Linked DNA regions of Homo sapiens: region 2 is linked to region 1. Evidence: fine-mapped expression QTL. A gene starts in region 1. The other region holds a variant in brackets. All regions are shown on one strand. Distances are from middle to middle.

What was found.
Region 2: its variant is fine-mapped to the expression of SCIRT in left ventricle (GTEx, PIP 0.98). The same link has a PIP of 0.9 or more in atrial appendage, prefrontal cortex and testis.

The regions. Positions count from the first base shown.
Region 1 is chr6:44,070,449-44,078,771 of GRCh38, forward strand. SCIRT (stem cell inhibitory RNA transcript) reads right to left here and starts at 4,204. Exons shown (of 5, transcript NR_125864.1): 1 at 4,049-4,204. RefSeq lists enhancers at 2,615-2,674, 2,715-2,814, 3,835-4,094, 5,215-5,284 and silencers at 2,895-2,974, 3,065-3,324.
Region 2 is chr6:43,994,346-44,002,668 of GRCh38, forward strand. It overlaps SCIRT (stem cell inhibitory RNA transcript), which reads right to left. Exons shown (of 5, transcript NR_125864.1): 2 at 6,698-6,771; 3 at 6,246-6,370; 4 at 4,873-5,163; 5 at 1,378-2,963. It overlaps LINC03040 (long intergenic non-protein coding RNA 3040), which reads left to right and starts at 6,240. Exons shown (of 3, transcript NR_160956.1): 1 at 6,240-6,355; 2 at 7,708-7,782. LOC124901321 (a long non-coding RNA gene) reads left to right here. Exons shown (of 2, transcript XR_007059591.1): 2 at 4,606-5,209. RefSeq lists enhancers at 1-72, 6,347-6,496. The variant C/G (reference allele first, on the strand shown) is at 3,786.

The sequences.
Region 1 (8,323 bases):
AATGTTGCTTCCAGTTTTTCAGGTTTGGAAGCAAAACTGCAATGAACACACTTGTATGTATACTTTGAACACTTGTGACATTTATAACAGTGCATCTGATAAATTCCTAGATATGGAACCCTCGAGTCCATGGTTTGTGAATTAATTCTTCTCATGTATACTGCCAATCCCCTTCACAGGTGCAACTGTCCTCCCCCCCAGCTCTGAGGATGTCTGTGTCCACACAGTGAGGGGTTGCCCATTTTAGTTGTTGTCAATCAAATTGGCGAAAAGAGAATCTTCTCATGTCTTCATTTTGATTTCTTCTATTTTGACTGAGGGTGAGCATTTTCACCTGCTTGTTAACCATTAGTATCCCCTTACCGGTTTATGTGCTTTGCCCATTTTTCTATTCGTTTTTATTTTCCTTATTGACTTGTAAAAACTCATCGGTCATCTATGTTAAAAATATTTTTTCCAGACGGTTGTCTTTAGAATTCAGGATATTACATTAAAAACACATTTTTTTTTCAGAGATGGAGTCTCACTGTGGTGCCCAGGCTGGCCTCAAATTCCTGGGCTCAAGTTATCCTCCCACCTCAGCCTCCCAAGGAGCTGGGACTACAGGCATGTAACACAACACCCTACGTCATATTTTAATACAGCCAATTTTAAAAAATTCTTTCCCTTTGTGACTCCTAGGTTTTGTGTCAAACTTTCCCCAATCCAAGAACATACACTTTTAGACTTTCAGATGTTTTCTTCTAGTAATTTTATGGTTTCCTTTTTACATTTAAATCTTCACTCCATCGGGATTTATTTCAGAATAAGAGATGAAGTGGGGAGCTGGATTTCTTTTTTTTCCCCCTTAACAGCTAACCAGTTGTCCAATTTGATTGAATAATTCATCTTTTCTCCTCTGATCTAAAATGTCATTTTATCATATATTTAATTTCCATTTGTTCACGGGTGTGTGTCTGGCCTCTACTCTGCTCCTTTGATCTGCCTGTCTGTTCTTGTGCCAGTACCCAACTATTTTATTATTGGAGCTTTCTACAACATTTTAGTAGCACTAGTCGTCCCTTATAATACTTCTTTTTCAGGATTTTCCAAGCTCTTTTTGCATGTTTATTTCTCCAGATGAACTTTAATATAATTTGTCAAGTTCAAAAGATCTCGTTGTTTTTCACATCTTCCAACAGATGTGATTTTCGGACATCTCAGCCCACAGCCAAACAGAAACAAGTTGAGAATAGGGTGGGTTTGGTGGTCTGCCCTGGAGGCAGGCAAAGTGATGGTAACAGAAGTGATAGTTTATACGGAGAGAGTTGATGAAGTGATAAAGTACTATAAAAGTAGACACAAGAACTACGAAAATGTAGCCTTCATGGAATGAGCCGTTGGTGTGGGGCCAAAAAAGGCCTTGGATTTTCACTGTATTACAACCAGGATACTGATGGACCCTTGTAACCACAACCCTGAGTCATGAAGACTCACATGTTCTGTAACCTCTGATTAAAAGCCCGGAAAGCGTGTAATATCCACTAGTGATTCCTATCCAAAATATCTCTTTTTAAGGTTTCAGATATTAATGTCTGGAAAACTAGTATGAAATGGTTCATTCTTGGATGGTGACATAAACATGACATGTTACTGGCCTCTTTACAGTTTTCTCAAAGCCCACCTTCAAATTCCAAGGAGCTGCCAGCTCCGGGATTTGAATTCACTCTATCCATGGAAACAAAGCTGAGGGAAATGTCCCCAGACTTTCAGCCAGTTCAAACACAATAATAAAAAAAGGTTTACCTCATACATGCCTCCAACATATGAGGCATGTTATAGGCAGATTATATTTTAATCCTCAACAGCCCCGCTGGGTGAATGCTGTACTCCCATTACACAGAAAACTGAGGCTCAGAGGGGTCAAACAACTGGGGCCAGTTTAAGTTAGTACGTGACAAAGAGCTCTCAGCTACCTCCACCTGCACATTCCACAGACCAGTCCCCTTCAGTTCACTCCCACAGGGAGGTTCAAAACACCACCGACCCTATTCAGACATCCCTTTGCAAGGCCCTGTCACCTGTCTTGCCCAATGCCCACCTAGCCAGGAGAGCCAGGATGCACAGTGAGGAAGGTGGAATGAGGTGCCAACGTAGCCCATCCAGGGAAGGAAGACAGCCCCCCCCCCCCGGCCACCCACTTGCCAGTGGCCCAGGTGGCAGGCCAGCCACTTGCCAATCCCCTTCCTGATCAGGGATTCAGGAAGTGAAGAGAGTGCCCCTGGAAGTCAGGAGACACCTCCAAGATGAAGGCCCTGCCTGCCATAGCCTGACACAGCCTCCCTGTACTCCCTGGGTTGTCCCAGGACGCAGACTCTGTGCTTACCATACCACACCTTTGTCAGTGGTGTGGGCAGGGCCCAGCAGAGTCCTGGACACCCCAGGGAGTAGGAGCTGTGCAGGTAACATAGGAGGGGGTGAAAGGGAAATGAACTCCCTTGGGAGTTCCCCATCCCAGAGGAAATAAAAGTCAAAGCACTCCTTTGTTTTTTCTTCCCAAGCCCTTATAAGGGGCTTTATGGGGCTTGCCTAGGTTTGAGGTGCAGCAGAGGCAGGCGGGTGAGGGCCTCCAGGCTGAGAGATCCTGGGGCAAAAGTGAAACTATATGGTCATGAACACGGGCATGTTCTGAACTCTGTGAAACCCTAGCCCAGGACCTGGCTGACTGTACAATCCGTCACCCGGCACACCGTAACAGAAGACCCTACTACGCGCAGAGGACAGTACTATTGGGGTGGCAACTGAAAAGGGTCCTGGCTGGAGGCGGGGTTTGCTGGAGGGGTAACAGAGCGTGCGCGGAGTGGAGAGGGTACGGAGGCTCACCGCCCAGCATCCCCAACCCCGGCGCTCAGAAGAGCAGCGCGCTCCGGAGCTCGGCGCGCGCGATCAAAGCCGGCGCCGCACGCGCACGCGCGCCCGCAGCCGCTCCCCCGCCCGCGCCGCTCCGGCTCCCGCGCGCGCGCACTTGAGGCCTCCCTTGTGCGTCTCCTCCATTCGCTACGTGCAGAATGGTCCGTCGGCAGCAGCTGCAGCGCTGGGTGGGAGGGGGAGGAGGAGGGGAGGGGGAGGCGGCGCCCAGGTCTCGGGGAGGGGCCGCGGCGGCCCTGGAGATAGAGGGGTGGGGGCGAAGGGGTGGGCCCCCGCAGCGGGGAGGACAGAGGGAGAGTCCGGGTGGGCTCGATGCTCAGCCTTCCCCCTCCCCCGCTCCCGCTTCTTTCTGCGAGGCCATTACGGCCATCTCCCGGCCTGAGCCTCCTGGAACCAAGCCGACCAAGAGGGGTTTCCTCCGTGTTGTCTCGTCCCCAAAACCCAGAATCCAGACCCAAGAAAGAACCACTCCTGCTGACCCCTCCTCCCGCTACCCGTCCCAACCGCATTCCCAAGCTTTCGTGGAGGTGACCCAACAGCAAGCACTTCCCCACTCCGCCTTTCATGGGGTGGGGTCCCTAAGAGGTACTGCAGACTAACTCCTCTTTTCATCTCTTACCCCACCTGGAGGAAGAGGCATGGCCAGGATGGACACCAGAGCACATTTCCCAGCATTTCCAAGGGGAAAGGGCAGCATCTCAGCATGCAGACTCCAACATGGCCACAGAAAGGTCGAGTGGCGCAGAGGAGCAGGCTGCTGCCCAGGCCCCTAGGGCCACTTCCAAAGGAGTGTGACCACGACTAGGTTGCTGTGGACTCACTCGCATTACAGGGCTGCGCCCTATACACCTGTTTGTAAAGGGTCCTCCTAGAATGTAATGGTGAGGGACCACCAAGCGGTGGACCAAGAATTCCAAACAGACCAGCTCCCTGCCTTGCCAGGAAACCAGATGTGGCCCAGATGTCCATAGCAGTTCCTCCCACAGGGTGGGACACCAGCTATTCTGTGCAACCCCTCCCAACCCTTCTTCCAGGGTCAGGGAGGAAAGCTGGCAACCTCCGTTGTCCCTTCCCATTTGGGTTGCTAGAAGGGAGCAACTCACTCATCCTCCTCTTCCTGCCAAGAGCCACCTGGGCTTACCTCTCCAGCAGCCACCTAGGTTCAACCTGTGGTCTAACCTCAAGCCCTCTGCTGACAGGTTAAGTCAAGATCGCCGGGAAGGAAGGCGTCCAGTTTCATTACACACACAGACGTACACACACACCCGACACCGACCCACGCGCCTGGGCTCTGCACAGTGGCTAGACCCCAAAAAGCCGATTCTCCTGTTCCCTCCGTGGTGGCCTCAGTCTTTTGGCGGCGCCCTCTGCTGGCCACTAGGAAGTGCAGGAAAAAACAGTCTGCCCATAGACGCTTGGTGGATCTGGGAAAGGGGACAAGAGGCAGAGAAACAAGTGAAAAGTGGGAGCTGAGAGCAGCGCTGGGCTGGCCACAAACAAGCGAGGCATGGTGACGCCTTCCTGGAGGTGGGGAGTTTTGAGCCAGCTTTCCATGGGCCTAGGGAGACAAGCCGAGCTGGCAGATAGGGGCTCAGGACACCCCAGGAGTGGCCCTTCCTGTGTGCTGAGCCCTACCCCTGTCCTGGATGGCTCATACACCCACTAACTCATATGGCTGCTGTGCCCTGCTTGGGAGTCCTTCCTGTCAGCCTCTATTGGGGTGGTGGGTGGGGAGGAGCAGCCATGGAAACCCTGATCCTTCTAGTCATAGTCTGGCTCCCTGGGGCTGTGAGAGGTGTCCCCAAAGAGAAGCCTCCAATTGACAAACCTCTGCTCCACCCCACCCCACATACACAGAGGATGGCCCAAGCCCAGGTCCCTGGCATGGTGGGGCAGGGGCCTGAGTCACAGCCTGGCGTGACCCTGCCCAGTCCCCAGGAATGGCCAGCTCGTCCAGAGGTGAGACCCAGGTCAACAATCCATCAGTCTGCCTCCTGCCACCAGGTATCCTCCCCATCACGTCCTACACGTGGGGTGGGCCAGGACAGTGCTGGGCAGAGCTAGTGTTGGGCCTGTGCCTGGGGGCCACCAAGGGGGCCCGGAGAAAAGAATGGAGGGGTTTTCACTTCCTGAGCAGCAGGAGGAGCCAGCTGGGGTTAAAGACAGGAGGGACTGGTTGGGCCTACAGGCATTTGGAGTCTCTCCCTGCCTGCTGGGTGAGGGAGGCAGCAGGTGCCAAGAACTGCTAGCTTCTAGGACCTGACCCTCAAGTTGCTTCTCCTGCTGAGGGGCTTCTAGGGTCACCCTCAGGGCCTTGACATCTGCACACATCTGCACAGGCCCTTCACCAGGGACTTAACCTCCAAAGGCAGCTCCTGCTCCCAGCCTTCACAGGCCCCCCTAGGGCCCAAGTCCCCAGACCCAACCTCAGTCTGCAAGCTGGCCAAGTCAGAGGTCCTGGCTGCCTGGACCACTCCCAAGCAGTAAATGGCACTGTGGGCTTCCTCCATCCTGTCTTCCCCGCCCCACTTCATTGATTCACTGACTTCCAACTTACTGGTCAGGCCCCCTTCCAGACCCTGCCTGGATGAAGAGGACTCCCAGAAGCAGTGATTGAAGGCCTAGGAGGATACAGAGAGCCAGGTGCTTTAATTGGAGGTAATTAGTTAATTTACTCTGAAAGCAATGGGGCAGGGCGGGGACAGGGGGAGGAGAGGGGAGGGGAGGAGGTAGGGGGCTGTGACCTAACTGGGCTCAAACTCTCAAACTCTGGTCAGCCTCCTTCTGGACCACAGCAAACCTGTGTGTACCCACCCACTTAGGAGACCCTCTCCTGGGCCCCAGGTCAGAGCAAGACCCAAAGTGGACTAGGGTGGCTCTGCAGAAAAAGCAGGTGCCCTGGGGTGGTGGGAACAGGCCTTTTGAGGTTAGGGAGGTGTGGACTGGCATGAGGGAATTGGAGAGGTGCAAGGAGCTCTGGGATGGGAACTGGTCCCTCTCCTGTCACGTATAATTCCATCCCTCCCAAGGTCATTGCTGTCACCCAAGTTAGGGGCCCAGCCCCCTCCTTTGGTCAGTGAAGTCCCAGGGCAGCCCATTTTAAATACAACGGGGCCTGAAGGCTAACTTCTGGCCTTCCTGCTTCGGGAAATCATTCCAATAACCGGGAAAAAAGGGGGCCCGAGGACAGAGCCCCTGCCGGGCCCCAGGGGGAGTGTCGTCGGCTCCTTTGCGTCGCCGGCCGGCGGCGTGGCGGGGACTCTGGCCGGCAGCCTCCCGCGCCGTCCGGAGCAGCTGACCCGCTGGCGGTGGGCCAGGTCGCGGCGGGGCCTGGAGGCAGCAACGTGCGGCGCGGCATGTCGCGGGCGCCGCGGCAGGGAAATGTGGGGGCGGGCCGGCGCGCCCCCTCCCCCCCGCCTACGCTGGCCCATTCATAAAACCTGCAGGCGCTGCCCGGCCTGGCAGCCTTGGTCTCCTAATTGCAAACTCATTAAGGAGTTTGCATCTCATTTGCATGGAAATCATTTCCTGGCCCTAAACAGAGAAACTTCCCGCCCCTCCACCAGCCCCTCTCTGCCCTGCTTTACCCATGCACAGTCTGGGAGAGGAGAGGGGGCATATCTCTGACCTGCGCCCCTTCCCTGGCCTCACCACCACCCTCCCACTTTAGGAGTTGGGGAAGGGATTGGCAGAACACCCACCCAGCCAGGAGCCCTGCCTGTGCCCCAGGTGAGCCGGCCCTGCCCTAGTGGGTCCAACTGAGGGGAGGTGCCTGCCAAGTCATTTGCCCCCCGGCCTGGCCGTGCCCAGGGAAGGGAGGAGGCGGTCGGCAGTTGGCCCCAGCAGCTGGTTGTACCTGGCAGGAGGTGGGTGAGGCTTTTCGTGCCCAGCCTCACGTACGTGCCCTGCCATAGGCCGTGCCCCCACCCCCACACCCCTCACCCCACAGAACAAGCGCCTAGTGACTGCAGAAACAGACACCCAGTCATGGCACACAAAGGCACCCACACCAGGCCAGCCATCATGGCTGCCCCCCTGGCAGCCACCCTGGAGGGCAGACAGATGCCTTCACAAGCCATTTTGTCTTTCTCCAGCTTGGTGCCAGGACTGGGGGTGGGGGAAAGGGTTTCTCCTGAGACTTCTCTGAGTAAGGGGGCCCACAGAGGGGTTTCCTTATGTACCCCAGCTGTGGCCTCTTGCCCCCTCTCTCCTGTAACCCATGTTTACAGAGGCCTCCAAGTGCTCTACCCTGCATGGGGACCTGCCCAGGCGAGGGGGTCACAGGAGCCTCCAACCCAGGAGGGGAAGTGAGAGATAAAGCCCCTAAGGAAGGGACACCTAAGTGCCTCCCCAACCAGGGTCTGTCCTTCGTGTCCCAAGTGTGTGTAGTGGAGGGAGTGCTCCCCAGTTTCCTGGGGGTTGAGGTGGGGCGGTATTCTAAACCTTTGGAAATGGAATAGAACTACCTAAAGTATATGAAATTAGATACTACTTGGGACACTATGTCTTGGTTCTGTATGTCCTGGGACAGTGTAAAAAGTGATCACAAAATTTTCAACATCACAGTCTAAAATAAAAACCTGCCTCTTGTCTGCCTCCTCAGACATAAACCTGCTTACGCTTCCCATCTGCCCACACTCCCACCTGCTGTATCTGAAGTTTCTCCCTTCCTTTGCTAGGGCATAAAGGGGTGGGCAAGGATGTTCTGGAACACTGACCACACATCCGTCCTGAGTATGGCTGGACTGACCCTACCCTCCCAGCTCCTGGAGCAGTTGGGTTCCAAGTGCCATATGTGTGCGTGGTTCAGGGGTACTGGAAGAAAGTTTTAGAATGCCTATTTATTTTTCATCGAATCCTTTTTTCATTTAGTGTGAGTGTGTTTTACAAGGTAAACTATATAAAAACATACTCATCTGACGGGTGCGTACTCAACAATCTTTTTTATTGCTAAGGGCACATGATCAAAAAAACTTCGGAGGTCACTGGCCTAGACTTCAGGTGGGGCAGCTGTGGGCAGGGGATGGCTTGTCTTGTCCATCTAAGTATCCAGCCTGACACATGACTAGTTCAGAGCCTGGCAGGGAGCAGAGGTCAGGGACACAGTATTGAATGAATGAAGTCCACCCCTAGAACTGACAGATGAGGAAACTGAAATAATTCTGGGGCGGGGAGATTGCTCAGAGGAGGACATGGGCAGGTTGAGAGAGTCTCCCCTCATTGCTGCTATGTCTGCAGCCTGCCCGTGTCCAACACCCAGCACCCACACAAACCTTACTTCTACCCACCCCAGGGAGCACAGCTCCCTCCTCTGCCTACCAGCAGAGTGGCCACCTGTCTTGAGCTTCTTACTGGATCCTGATTAGCAGAGCCAGACAGGGTTGTCACCTGCCATATCCCTCTACGTGGCAGAAAG
Region 2 (8,323 bases), 76 kb before region 1:
ACTCCTGGACATTGCAGGAGGCCGCACTCCACTCTGCCCCCTCCACAAATGGAGCCCTTCTCCCAGCTGATCCTCCTGGGAAGGGCAGGGTCCAGCCAGCCCTCTGCTCAGTGTGGCTCTGGCATGGATCAGCTGGGTGGTCCTGACCCCCAGTGGACCTGGTCAGGAAGGGAGGGAAGCTGCAGGGACATCCCACTGATCTTAGCATGGCCACCAAGGGACAGCTTCCTCTGGTGCATACCCTCCCCCACTTCCCTCTTGGTCAGAACCATGGCCCCACACTATGGCATTCCTGTAGGCAGAGCCCTAGGCTAGAACTAGGGGTGACAGCCAGGGTGAGAAAGAGCAGGGGTAGCCAGGTCAGCAGCCCCTCCAAGACTCTCCAGGAGACCAGTGTGGATGCAAAAGAAGGCAGGTTCAAAGTCAGCTCCTCCTCTAAGCCCCTCCTAGATAGGGCTCAGACTGAGGGGAGACACAGCCCTTACTCAGGGAGCCCCAGTCTGAGGGGAGATGCAGCCCTGTCCTCAGGGACCCCCAGTCGGAAGGAACTATCATGCTACTTGTCCTCTCTTGAGTTTCTTGTGTAACCCTGGGGGTTTTACTCAATATCTCAGAGCCTCTGTTTTCTTGTCTGTGTAATGGCAACATGGCCACACACCTCAAAGATGTTTGGTTCATGCCAGTCAGATCACAAAACCTGAGTAAAATGTAGCTATTCTTTTTCATTTGGAGTTTTCTTGTGGAAGAAATCATCGCATTTAGTCTTTCTTTGGAGAAGCCAGTTGCAGTGGGATCTTGTGTACCTCCCAGTCCTCTCCCAAAGACTAATGTCGTGATGGTCTGGCTGTCTTGACACACCTGGCCTTCCCAGGCAGCCCCAGGCTGGACATTTATAGTCAACAAATATTATGGAAAGTCAGCCATACAAGAGGCCCCAGGCCTGAGGACACCAGTGCAGCAGGGGTCAAGGCAAGCCCTGCAGCCACCCACCCCAGGCCAGTTCACTCCACAGCTATGGATGAAGCGGGGAGGAAGGCTCCCCCTTCCTCTCACTAGCTACCTGCCCCCCACCACTTGTCTGTTGACTTGGGGGACCCTCGACAGCTTCAGAGACTGGCTTCAGGGTACCTGGGGGATATACCCTCTCAAACCTGCAACTGTGAATGAGGATGGGAAGCTGCCAAGAGGTATACATGTGTGTGTGTGTCCAGCCCTGTCACAACTGAAGAGTGGAATTCCTTCCCACATGCACTGTACGATGATACCACACATGGCTGTCCCAGGGACCAAGGCTTTCTGTCCCTGGGACAGAGGGCCTAGAGGGCCCAGACTCTAGCTATAAATGCCCCCAGAAAACAGTCCGGTGGCTTCTGGTCATTTGCTTCTTAGGTACTTTGTAAAATTTATTCTTCTTGAGATGTTAGATTTGTGCATCAAATTGTACAAATCATTAAGGGTGCAGCTTGGTGAATTTTATGTAATGCCCACATAACCACCACCCGGTGCAAGCACAGAATGTTTTCAGCACCCCAGGAGGTTCCCTGAAGCCCCTCCCAGTCAATTCCACCTTCCAGAGGTAACCACTATTCTGACTTCTATCCCCATAGATCTGCTTTGCCTGTTCTTGAATCTCATGTAAATGGAATCATAGCATATGCACACTTTTGTGTCTGCCTCGTGCTGTGCAATATTATGTCTGTGAAGTTCATCCATGTTGCTCAAGTAACACTAGGTTTTCCTTTTGTATTGCTGAGTAGTATTCCATTAAGTGGATATGCCACAGTTTATGTACCTATTCTGGGACATTTAGGTTATTTCCAGTTTTTAATTAATATGATGCAAGCAGACACAGCATTCCTGTATGTTTTCTGGTGCTCCTAAATATGGCAACCCAAATCTTGAGAGCAGATTTTGAGGGCAACGCATGGTTAAGAACTCCAGGGAAGAGGAATTAAAAATGACTGGGCTCCTGCTCTGGGCCATGAGCTTTTGTGGATCCACTGGACCAATCACTAAGGAAGGAAGACAGAGAAAGAGCAGCTCCCAAGGGGAACTCCTCTGAGCTCATCACTGAGCCTGGAGCCAGCTGTGTGTGTGTGTGTGTGTGTGTGTGTGTGTGTGTGTGTGTGTGTGTGTGTGATTGGATTTGTTGCCGGGGCTGCCATAACACAGTACCACAGACTTGGTGACTCAGTAGTTTAAAACAACAGAAACGTATTCTCGCACAGTGAAGGAGGCCAAAAGTCTGAAATCAAGGTGTTGGCAGAGTCTGTTTCTTCCAGAGGCTCTGATGGAGATTGTTCCTTGCCTCTCTCCTTGCTTCTGGGGGCTGCCAGCACCTTGGTATTTCTCGGCTCATAGCTGCATCACTCCAATCTCTGACTCCATCATCACATGGCCTTCTGCTCTGTGTCTCCATGTCTCTGTTTTCAAATCTTTTTCTCCTTATAAGGACACCAGTCACTGGATTTAAGGCCCACTCTAATCCAGTAAGATCTCATCTTAATTTGATTACATCTACAAACACCCTATTTCCAACTACGGTCACATCCCCAGGTACTGGGGGTTAGGACTCCAACTTATCTTTTTGGTGGGGATGGGGGGGCACAATTCAACCAACAACAGTGATTATGGCTGTGTGTCTGTGTGTGTAAGACTGAGTGTGCATGAGTGTGTGTATTAATGTGTATACGCGTGAGGGGTAGTGAGTGTTATGCACATGTGCTTGTGAGAACATGTCTGCGATGGTGTTTCTCGGTGTGCTTATGTGACTGTGGGCATGTACATATGAGCATGTGTGTATATGTGCTTCTGTTTCCACGACTTGGAGACCCTGCTGGATGAGCTGAGAAGGGCAGCAAGGCAGGACGGTGGCAACAGGTTGAAGAGGTGCTTGGGGCCAGCCAGGTGAGCAGGCAGGCCTTGCCTCATGAATCTGGAAGAGTAGCTGGTGGATACAGACTCTGAGAAACAAGGACAAGGATGTTTGTTGAGCTGGGATACAGGCTGGTAGGCCCAGGCAGTAGCTCCTGACAGCAGTGCCTGTTCCCAGGTCTTCTTTCAGGAATATTCCTAGAAACCCTCTCCACCCATGCTCCTGACCCTTGCATCCCATTTGCCTGGACAGAGAGGCACTGCCTGACTCCTCCCTTCCCAGGAATAAAAGTCAGCACTCAGTTACCTGTTGTGCCAGCCAGGTAGGGGCGGGGCAGGTAGCCAGTCCTTCCCTAGACCCACCCCCAGCCTAGTCCAAAGTAGCACCCAATCACCCATCCCTATGCCCTGCCATGCCTCTCAACTTGTATCTTGCACCTTGGCTGGGGCTGGACCCCAGAAATCAAAGAAAAACGGGGGGAGCATGTAGCAGTCAGGTAAGGTCCAGAATGAGGGCTTCTTATCTCCCTAGGGCAGCTCTCTTAGGCAAGCCCACCATCAAGCGACAGGATATTGGGAAGGTCTCCTCATAGTAATGTCAACTCAGGGCCTGCTCTGAGCCGGGTTATCTCATTTAAATTTCACAATCAGGCCAGGTGTGGTGGCTTTTGCCTATAAGCCCAGTATTTTGGGGGAGTGAGAGGTGACAGGGTGCTGGCAGTCCTCACAGCCCTCGCTCACTCTCGGCGCCTCCTCTGCCTGGGCTCCCACTTTGGCCACACTTGAGGAGCCCTTCAGCCCGCCGCTGCACTGTGGAAGCCCCTTTCTGGGCTGGCCAAGGCCGGAGCCGGCTCCCTCAGCTTGCGAGGAAGTGTGGAGGGAGAGGGGCGGGCGGGAACCGGGGCTGCGCG[C/G]GGTGCTTGCGGGCCAGCGCAAGTTCCGGGTGGGCGTGGGCTCGGCAGACCCCGCACTCGGAGCAGCCCGCCAGGCCCCACCGGCCCTGGGCAGTGAGGGGCTTAGCACCTGGGCCAGCAGCTGCTGTGCTCAATTTCTCCCCGGGCCTTAGCTGCCTTCCCGCGGGGCAGGGCTCGGGACCTGCAGCCTGCCATGCCTGAGACTCCTCCTGGCTCCGTGGGCTCCTGTGCGGCCAGAGCCTCCCCGACGAGCGCCACCCCCTGCTCCATGGCGCCCAGTCCCATCCACCACCCAAGGGCTGAGGAGTGCGGGCGCACAGCGCCGGACTGGCAGGCAGCTCCACCTGCAGCCCTGGTGCAGGATCCACTGGGTGTAGCCAGCTGGGCTCCTGAGTCTGGTGGGGACGTGGAGAACCTTTATGTCTAGCTCAGGGATTGTAAATACACCAATTGGCACTCTGTATCTAGCTCAAGGTTTGTAAACACACCAATCAGCACTGTGAATGCACCAATCGACACTGTATCTAGCTACTCTGGTGGGGACTTGGAGAACCTTTGTGTCAACACTCTGTATCTAGCTAATCTAGTGGGGACATGGTGAACCTTTGTGTCTAGCTCGGATTGTAAACGCACCAATCAGCACCCTGTCAAAACAGACCACTGGGCTCTACCAATCAGCAGGATGTGGGTGGGGCCAGATAAGAGAATAAAAGCAGGCTGCCCCAGCCCGCAGTGGCAACCCGCTGGGATCCCTTTCCACGCTGTGGAAGCTTTGTTCTTTTGCTCTTTGCAATAAATCTTGCTACTGCTCACTCTGTAGGTCCACGCTGCCTTTATGAGCTGTAACACTCACCGCGAAGGTCTGCAGCTTCACTCCTGAAGCCAGCGAGACTACGAGCCCACCGGGAGGAACAGACAACTCCAGACGCGCCGCCCTAAGAACTGTAACACTCACCGCGAAGGTCTGCAGCTTCACCCCTAAGCCAGCGAGACCACGAACCCACCAGAAGGAAGAAACTCTGAACACATCTGAACATCAGAAGGAACAAACTCTGGACACGCTGTCTTTAAGAACTGTAACACTCACCGCGAGGGTCCGCGGCTTCATTCTTGAAGTCAGTGAGACCAAGAACCCACCAATTCCGGACACAGGAGGATCGCTTGAGCCCAGGAATTCAAGACCAGCCTGGGCAACCCAGCAACACTCCATCTCTACAGAAGTTGTAAAATTAGCTGGGCGTGATGGGGCGCATCTGTAGTCCTAGCTACTTATCCTAGCCTTGGCGAGAGGATCACTTGAGCCCAGGAGGTTAAGGCTGCAGTGAGCCATGATTGCACCACTGCACTCCAGCCGGGGTAACAAAGTCAGACCGTGTCTCTAAAAATAAATAAATAAATAAAAATAAAATAAATTTGACAACCAAGTTTAAATGGTGTTCTCATTATTCCCATTTTACAGATGCAGTCACTGGGGCCCCCAAGAAGTTAAGTGATCTGCCTAAGATCACATGCCTTTGTTTATATGTGTTGGAATTTTTCAATTCTCTCTGGAAATCCACATCCTCCACCCCCAACCCAGACTCCAACACAACTGCTTCCACCACGGCCCACCTGCGTACCCCACACATATCCCTGAAGTGCAGACTTCCTCCCATCCTTCCCCAGGAAGATTCCCTGGTCTGTGGGGTAGCGAGTGTTGGGGTGGTCTCTCCTTCCCTCCCATGCTTCTAGATTCCTCTGTAGGGTCCCGGTTTTGTTTTTGGTGTGGCAGCAAGCTCACTGCCTTTTTGAGTACTGTATGTCAGTGAGTTTGCATGCACACACCTGGAGGAGGGATGTGTGGGCATGAGAGGTATCTGGGCAAGTGGGCTTACTTGCCCACCTGGGGCACATGTGGGTACAGTGCAGTGGAGCATACATTGCCTAGATTGTAACCGTGTGTGTGCCTAGACACAGGCAAATGAGCCCATGTGGGTGTTCATGAAGGGCCTGCCCCCTGCATGTTTGGGGGTCTGTAGAATGAGTCCCCATTTCTCTCCCCTTCCCAAATAACTGCCACCATCTTCAGTTCAGACTCCTGGGCCCCAGGTAAGGGGCTGGTGAAAACCGCCTGTGACTGGGGACAGAGACACCTGAGTCTTAAGCCCCACCCAGGCTGCTAGTGCCCTTGAGCAGGCATCACCCCACCCAGGCAGCGGGAGTGTCCTCACCCAATGGGATAGGGTGACATGGGGGAGGAGGTTTGAAGCGGGGAGAAGGCAGCGAGGCTTTCAGCTCCCTAGATGGGAGGCTCATTACCCTAGCACTCAGTAGGTTGTAGGGAAGGGGGACTGAGCCAGGACTTGGCACTGACTACAAAGGGTAGGGGCAGCCCCCAGCACTCCCGCCGCGGCAGGCCAGGGGAGGGGCTGTGACGTTTGGTGGCCTCATGCAGCTGAGAGGAAGTAGCTAATTGCCAACCTGATGACTGGCGGCTGAGGAGTGGGGTGATGATGCCACTGGCAGAAGCAGGCGCCCTGGCCCAAGGAGGAGGCCCTTCAGCAACGGAGTGGGCCTGCATTCTGCGGAGGGTGAGACTGAGGTGGCTGCAGTCAAAGGAGAAGGGGGCAGGGGTTTGTTGAGGCTGTGACCGTGGGAAAGCGCTTCTCCAGGGCTTCCCTCAGCTTCAAGGAGAAAGAGTTCAGAGGCCCTGAGGGGATGAAGGGACTTGTGAAGGGGCTTCAGGGGGATGGGTTGGGGGGAAGGAGGTTCCTATTCTTACTCCCCTTCTGCCTATGCTCCCCCAATGTTCCTGTCTCTCCCCTCCCCCACCTTGGCCCCCTCTTTGGCCCCTGTGGCCAAAGTTGTTGAGGAAGGAGGGAGTAGATGGAGGGCTCTTTTCACCAGAAGACCCCCAGGCACAAGCAGCCCACCTTACTGATGGTCAGAGCATCCAGAAGAAGTGGCAAGACTTCAGCTGTCCTCAAAGCAGGAAGACAGAGTGTTTCTGGCAGAAAGAACAGCACAAGCAAAGGTTAGGCAGTGGGGTCTGGAGAGGCTGGTGGAGGACTGGGGCTTGGCTTCAATGGTTATGAGAGGAGGTGGGCAGGATGTTCTGTACCAAGGGCCACACTGTCCCTTCCTGGAAGAAACAGTGGGTACCCAGCACCCAGAGCTTCTCCCACATGCTGGCCACCGCCTCTGGCCCCAGTAGACCTGGCCCTCAACTGCCTCAGCAAGCCTCACAGGTTGGGGACCCCACCCTCATTATTCTCAAGTGCATCAACCCCGAAGGACTGAAGCCCCGAGTCCCAATAAACAGGTCCCATCCATCCGTAGGCCAGTCCGCTGGGCCCCTAGCACCCCCTATGGGCAGGAAGCAACACTAATGGAGGAGGAGCCTCCAGCAGCCTGGGGTGGGGTGGGGGTGGGAGAGTGAGACGTGAGGGAGGAGAGAGACTTGCCCTCTAGGAAGCGGACAGACCATGCCTCAGGAAACCCCAGTGTCACAGGTCACAGACACTGACCTTGAAGCGTTACTCTCATGGGTGAAATTTAGCCCCTGTCCTCAGGAAGCTCCCAGTCTGACGGGGGACACATATAGTGCTCTCAGAGCTGCCTTCTTTAGGGTGAAACTCAGTATCTGGGCTTCAGGAAACTCCCAGTGTAAGGGGAGAGACACGACCCTGCCCTTAGGGATCTCTCAAATGAGGCATACCCACTGGACTTTCGGGAACCATCAATCTGTTTCCAGACATGGATTAGAGATTTCAATGCCTCAAGGGCTGCCAGGAAAAAAAATACAAGACGTCCAATTAAATTGAATATCAGATAAACAACGAATAATATTTTAGCATAAGTCTGTCCCATACAATATTTGGGACAGACTTACACTATTTAAAGTATCCAGTTTAACTGGAAGTCTTGTGTTTTTATTTGCCAGATCTGGTAACCCTAGGTGCCTCCAGTTTGAGGGAGGAGAGAGGACACCCCCTCCACCCCAGACATAGGAAAGCAGGTAAACACCTCAGCGTGCTCCGGAGGGCAGGGGTGGGGCAGGAGGAGAGTCCTGGGGCTCCGGCTCGCGGCAGTTTAAAATTCCTTCCAGGCCAGAGCCCTAATCCCTCGGTGCACAATGGCCGCCTTCTCCCCCGCCGCCCGCGCCCACGCCCTCCCCCGCGGGGCCGTGGCAGTGCCACCAAGGGCCTCTTTAAGCCCCTTTGAAGCCGCGGAGCCCCGCGCCGCAGGAGGCCCCGCCGCTATGCCAGCTATGCCAGCTATGTCCCTGCTGCCGCCGGCCGCCACCGCTCCCCCATTAATGCTGGCTAATCTGGCTAATAAATAAACTCCCCTCCCAGCCCCAGCCCCGCGCCGACTCCTCCCCGCCCCCGCAGAATCGATGTCAGGGCTCGACTAGAGCAAGCGCCCGCACTCCACCCCACTCCCTCGAGATGTAGCTGACGTTTTTTCTTATGGCTGCCCTAGGTCTGTAGCCCGTCGGGGATTCTCGGGGAGACGTGGGATTTGGGAGGTCTCCGCCTAGCCACTGCGTTTGCCTT